2 separate regions of the Homo sapiens genome follow, and region 1 is linked to region 2. Evidence: fine-mapped expression QTL. A gene starts in region 2. The other region holds a variant in brackets. All regions are shown on one strand. Distances are from middle to middle. Region 1 holds the start of ZFYVE21 (zinc finger FYVE-type containing 21). Region 2 holds the start of KLC1 (kinesin light chain 1).

Region 1 (2,893 bases), 88 kb before region 2:
GACCGCCCACCCCCAAGCCCACTGCCTTGCGTCAGTGTCGGATATTTGATGGCAGAGTCAGACAAGCCCCAGAGATCATCTGAAGCTTCCTTCACACCCCCAAAGCACCTCTATCCAAAGTGGTGTCGCACGAAGCTTTACACGCCGCCTCTGCCTCCCCTGCCCCACAGGTTCCTGAGGAGGCACAGACTGGAGAAACGATTCTCAACTGGTTCTGCGTCAGAGCCTTGAGAATCTGAGAGCTGCAGGCCACCTCTCGGAGAAAGGTGCATGTGTGCACATGCTCCCCAGGGGGTTTTGCAGCATTTTAAAGGGATAACCCTCATGGGCCCAAACTGATAAACCAGCCCGGTCAGGCAGCTGGTATTCGGGAGACGGGCACTGGGCTGGATTCAGACTCCCCTGGCTAAGAACAGAGCTGGAATGAAAATGGACCAACACGTTTACAGATATGACGATGATGCCGATCGGCACACGGCCACCAAGCCAAGGACAATGTTACCCACCTGCCAAGTTCTACCAAATTCTCCTCTCCCCATTCCAAACCACCTCAAATAAACCTATTTCCCACAACTGGTTATCTGCACATTTGAGTCACCTCCCGACAATCACCTTAGCGGCCCCAAGCACGCAGCCAGCACAGTGTAGCTCAGTGTCCCCTTCAGCATCACCACATGCCAGGCGACTGTTACCGTACATGTCCCCTCGAGCTATTGCACCTAAAGCTGGACTTTATTCCAAATCTTCCAGCCCTTACTGCCCCGTTCTAAGTTCCTCCAGAACACTGTCTTTGGTCGTTTCTGGCCTGTAAGACCATGCTCCAATACAATTCACAACGCAAAACTCAGAGACAAAGTCCATCTTATTAGAATGGTTTCTCTGTCCCCCAAGCCCACCCAATGCTAGGACCTCCCTCAGCTGCTCAGATCCCAGTTAATCATCCAAACATGGTGGGGGGCTCTGGAGGGGTATCCTGCCACCACGCCAGCGTGGGAATGAATCTTCTCTTCCACGAGGGGTGCCACCTTGACTCAAGTGTTTCAACTCCACTCAGTCGGAAGTCACCGCGGGACTGCCACACAGTGCCTCAGCAGAGGCCACAAAGAAAGGCAGGGAAAAATGCTAAACAATTCAGCTGATACCAGAAGGGCTCTGGAAGAGAGAATGAAGGAGGGGAACACAGTGGTTCACTATAAAACAGAACCGTAAGATCAGTGCATGTGTACAGCAGGGAGAAAGAAATTGTGCTTTGGTGGAAACCTCTGCCTCATCTTGGCCACACTTTCTCACGTGCTCCTTACGGTTCATACAGA[C/T]GTAGAGTATTTCTGTGCTATTAAGAGTTCGTTACACCATAAATACAATTTTCACGTGTCAACTTAAAAGTAAATTTTAAAAAAGATGAAGGAGGATGATTGGCGGAAAGTGTCTAAAAAGACTCCTCATGGTGGCGATACTGGGGAGAGGTGGGCAGCACTGGTCTCAACTCTCCAGGACACGCTCAGTGACCGGTGATGGCTCCGTACACTGTAGATGCCAGAGACACTTCCCCAGAGTCACTCGAATTCCGTCCTGTCCCCGAGGCTCTGTGGCCGCTCACCCCCCACCAGGCCTCCAACCAAGCTTCAATGAACCCAGTCAATTAGTGCTACTTTGACTTCTTGAACCTAGTTCCAACGTCTGCTTAGTTCTATCACTGAGGGAATTAAACGAATCTGTAACACGTGTTAAGTATGAAAGTCATATTACAAAAATTCTTTTTCTCCCCCAATTTTTTTTTTATCGTGGTAAAATCCACAGAACAGAAACTGGACACACCTGTTAGCGCACAGCCAGTGGGATTAAATGCACTCGGGGCCTTCCCAGTTGGCCAAGGGGCTGGTGTGAGGCAAAGGCACCTCCGATCAGGTCACAGGGAACCCCACGGGAGGCCCAGCGGATGGCCTGGCTCAGGGACCCCACGCCCACGCCCCAATGTCTGCAGGAGTGGCCTGGGCAACTCCTGCCGTGTCTGGGCCCATGGGAAACGGGTGCAAATCTGCGGTCTCCTTCAAACTGTCCAGTGGGCGACTGCGACCTCGCTTCCGAGGTGGAGGGTGGTATAGACGAAGGGAAACGGGGGGCAGCCTGGCCCGCAGACTGGGTCCTGGCCCTCCTTCCGAGCAGGAGGTGGCTTCGGAACCGGCCACCCGCCCGCGGCACCGACGCCTCCCCCGGTTCCCGGGAGGGACCCCTGCGGGGCCGCCAGCTCCAGCGCTTCCGCGGACAGCACGCGCCCTCCCCACCGAGCCTGCGAGGAAGGCGCTCCGCCTTCCACTTTCTCGGGAGCGAGCCCCAGCTCTCGGGACGCAGTCCACACGCGCTAGCCCAGCACGAACCGGCCTCGGGCAGGGCCGCACCCACCCCCGGGACCAGCCCGCGCCCCGCACCCCGCCTCCCGGCGCCCGCCCTGGACAGGTGCCTCCTGCCCTCCCGGGACCCCCGCACCGGGACACCGCGCGCCTCCCGCCCTCCCCGCGGGCGTAGGAGCCTGAGGCGGCGGCCCGGGGACGCGGCCAACCTGGGAGAGAGCGGGGGCGGGGGCCGGCTGGGGAAGGGGCCGCCCGGAGGCGGAGGGGTCGTCGCGGGAGCCTGGAAGCCCGCGGGGCCGGGCCGGGGCGGCGGGGCGGGTCGGAGGCGCTGGCCGGGGCGACGGCCACCCACCTCCTTGTCCGGGACCCACTGCGGCTCCTCCAGGCCGAACGGGCTTCCGAAGGCGCGGTGTTCGGGCACCATGCGCAGGCCGCTCGGGGAGCGCACCAGCTTCTTGGCGTCGCGGCGCGCGGACACCTCGGAGGACATGACGCCGCCTCAGCCTCTCGGCCAGCGGCCCCGCACCCGGCCCCTCGCCCAGCCC
Region 2 (2,893 bases):
GGGATTTAACTAATGCAAAGAATCAAAGCTCTAACTGCCCTTTTACAGAACACCTGAAATAGTATATCTCAAATTTTTTGTTCTCACATTTTTAAAAAACATCATTTTTGTAAGTATTCCTTTTCAAACGCTTAATATGTAAATTCTTAATTCATTTAAATAATAAAACAGTAACAGGCAGCAACAATTCTAATACAAATATACCTAGAAATGACCTACAAATGTTAAGTTATAAAACCATCCACTCCATCACGCATTAATTTCACTACTTTTACGCTTTATTTTAATTTTCTTAAGGAAAAGGGTACACCCAATTTTACATGGAAAAAGCATTCCAGGACGGAGGCTGCTTCAAGTTTAGTTGGAGCAACGCCAGCCTAGGTGAACAGGGTCGCCTGAAACGTTTCGCATCTGGTTACTGAAAATAAGGGGTCGCCAAGGAGGCAAAGCGGAGCCAGCTCTCGGGAGGGACCCGGCCCCCCGCCGCCCGCGAGAATGACAGGCGCGTCCGCTCAGGGCGGTGCCGGGAGAGGCGGGGGTGGAAGGAAGAGGAGGAATCGGACAAAGCCAGCCCCGCCGGGCCTCCGGCCTCCCCGCCCGCCGCGATCCCGGGGTCAGCCACCTCCCCTGTCGCGGGTTCCCGGGGTCCACAGCTGTCCCCGGGAACGGCCGCCGCCGCCCGCAGCAGGGCCAAGCCGGGGATGCGGGGCCAGGGCGGGGCCCTGGGCAGGGCCGGGGACCGGAACCTGCAGTGGGACGCGGATGGGGAGGACGCGCGGCGCCGGGAGCCGGGGCTGGCAAAAGGGCCGGGGACAAGAACCCGACCTGAACCTGGAAGGGGTCGCGGACCGGCCGGGGCGGTGAACTGGGGCGGGTACCGGGGTGGGAACGGAGAGGGGCCGGGACCCAAACCGGGAAGGAGGCCTGGATGGGGACAGAGTTACGGCCGGGGCGGGTCCGAAGAGGAGCGGGACAGGGACGGGGCGGAGGATGAGGAGGGGGCCGCGGTCCGGGGCGCACGCCGGGGACTCACCGCCTTGCTCCTGAGGGCCGCGCTCTCTCGCGCTGTCAGCACCTGGAGCGCCGCCGGGCGCGCGCGCGGAGCAGCGACTGTGCGCCGAGCCCGCCTCGGCTGTGTGAGGCACGGCGCAGCAGTCACCAGCTAGGGGCGCCGGAGCTACCGCCCCGCAGCATCCTCGGCCACCCACGCGCTGTCCCCTTGGCCGCCGAGCACAGCCCCGCGGCTCCTCGCACCAGCAGCCCAGCCGACCCAGCCAGTCCCGCTCGGCCGCCTGCGCCGCTCCCGCCGCCGAAAATGGCGTCTCAGTGTTGCTCCCCCCGGCGCCCCGCCTCGCCCCGCCCCACAATGCCGCGCGCCGGCATGACGTCATCGCCCCTCGCCCCGCCCGGGGCTGGGGAAACTGAGGCTGGGTGGCTCCCCGCAAGCGCTCGGCGAGCTGGGGACTGGAGGGGCGAGAAAGTTGTTTGGGTATCAGGTGGGCGGTCACAGGGAGGAGGGTGACGGTGCAGGACCCAGCGGGCCTCCCGGTTGTAACGCGGACGGGGGTGGGGCGCTCGGGGCAGGGCGCGGCTCGCGGGGTGGGCGGCCAGGCCCTGGCCTCTCCGACTCCGCAGCCGCGATGACCGAGCGCTTCGGCAGCTTCCCTTCCAGCCGGACTGTGGGCCCTACCAGAATGCGGCCGGGGACGGTGCAGGCCCGGCCGCAGCCGCCACCACTGGGCTCCCGCCCCACCCCACTCCCAGGCCCGCGAGCTTCATGCGCTCGTTTCGGTCCCCCCAAAACCCAGCTAGGAGGCCTTCGGGAGGCCCCGGAATCAGATGATCCCGGCCAGGCCTTTCTCCCTCCTCCAGGAAAACCGACAGCCTTTGGTCGAGACCCTGACCTCTAACCCTGCGCCCTCCCCTTCTCATTATTCCCTCTCCTCGGGGCTTTTGGACCCTCGTATCTGTACGAGGAAACTTTCCAGGCGCTCCCCCTCGACACAAACTGCGCCTCAGACGGGCAAAGGGGAAGGGCCGGGGTGTAGACTGTGAGGGTGGGAGACAACCCCCCTCTGTCCCCACGCAGCCACCGGCGCATCTCCCTGGCTGCAGGGCCTCGACCTCCAGCCCGGCCTGAAGGGCAGCGGAGCGCGCCTGGGTCAAGTCCTGCGGCTTCGCCGGCTCCGCAGGCCTGACTCAGCAGCCAGCCGGGAGGGCATGCTGATTCAATGGGCGAGGCTCCGCTCGCTGCTGCCAGCGGCTTGGGAAAAACCCTCCCAGTGCCTGCAGACGTCCCAAGTGCGGGGCCCGGAGGCATCATTTAACCTGGAGGGGTTCCTGGGCCAGTCCCCCAGCCCCATCTTGTGAACTGCTGTTCCTTTCCGATGTTATCACCCAGCACCAGCAGCCCTTTGTGAACCCTGCAGTTAGGCCCCGCAGTCACCAGAGAAGCAAGTGCTCCTCGGTTTTTCCAGGGAGGTCTGGTTACTTTTATCTCATTTATAAAGACAAAGGGGGAGCTCCTAGGTAACACGGTAGGGTTGGCCCGGGGAGAGGCACTGAGTCAGGGTCAAACAAACTTTCTCCATACCACTTTCAGGTTAGTGATTTCAGCCAGACTGCAGCTTGGATGTCACTAAGTTCAGCCACTGGGCTGGGCACCGCCAAGCATCGACTGCTCATTCTTTCTGTGCCGCTGCGCCCAGTAACTGTCCCCTCTGCTCACCCACAACCCTAGCCAGAAACCTGGGATGCCTGCACCGCTCCCTTACGCCCTACTACAACAGGTGGAAAAGATTCTACTTCCTCAATATTTCTTTGAGTTAGGGTATCTTTGTCACCCTGACTGGAGGGCAGTGGCAATCAGCTCACCGTAACCTCGAACTCCTGG

Evidence for each region. PIP is the estimated chance that this variant, and not a neighbour inherited with it, causes the effect.
Region 1: its variant is fine-mapped to the expression of KLC1 in lung (TOPMed, PIP above 0.99).

The regions. Positions count from the first base shown.
Region 1 is chr14:103,715,787-103,718,679 of GRCh38, reverse strand. ZFYVE21 (zinc finger FYVE-type containing 21) reads right to left here and starts at 2,870. Exons shown (of 7, transcript NM_024071.4): 1 at 2,701-2,870. The coding sequence starts at 2,838. RefSeq lists an enhancer at 1-506 and silencers at 2,057-2,136, 2,197-2,266, 2,367-2,446, 2,637-2,893. The variant C/T (reference allele first, on the strand shown) is at 1,314.
Region 2 is chr14:103,627,635-103,630,527 of GRCh38, reverse strand. KLC1 (kinesin light chain 1) reads right to left here and starts at 1,317. Exons shown (of 17, transcript NM_001394837.1): 1 at 1,034-1,317. LOC105370688 (a long non-coding RNA gene) reads left to right here and starts at 1,385. Exons shown (of 3, transcript XR_944248.2): 1 at 1,385-1,496; 2 at 2,603-2,789. RefSeq lists silencers at 570-749, 790-839, 930-1,049, 1,100-1,459, 1,550-1,749 and an enhancer at 2,190-2,279.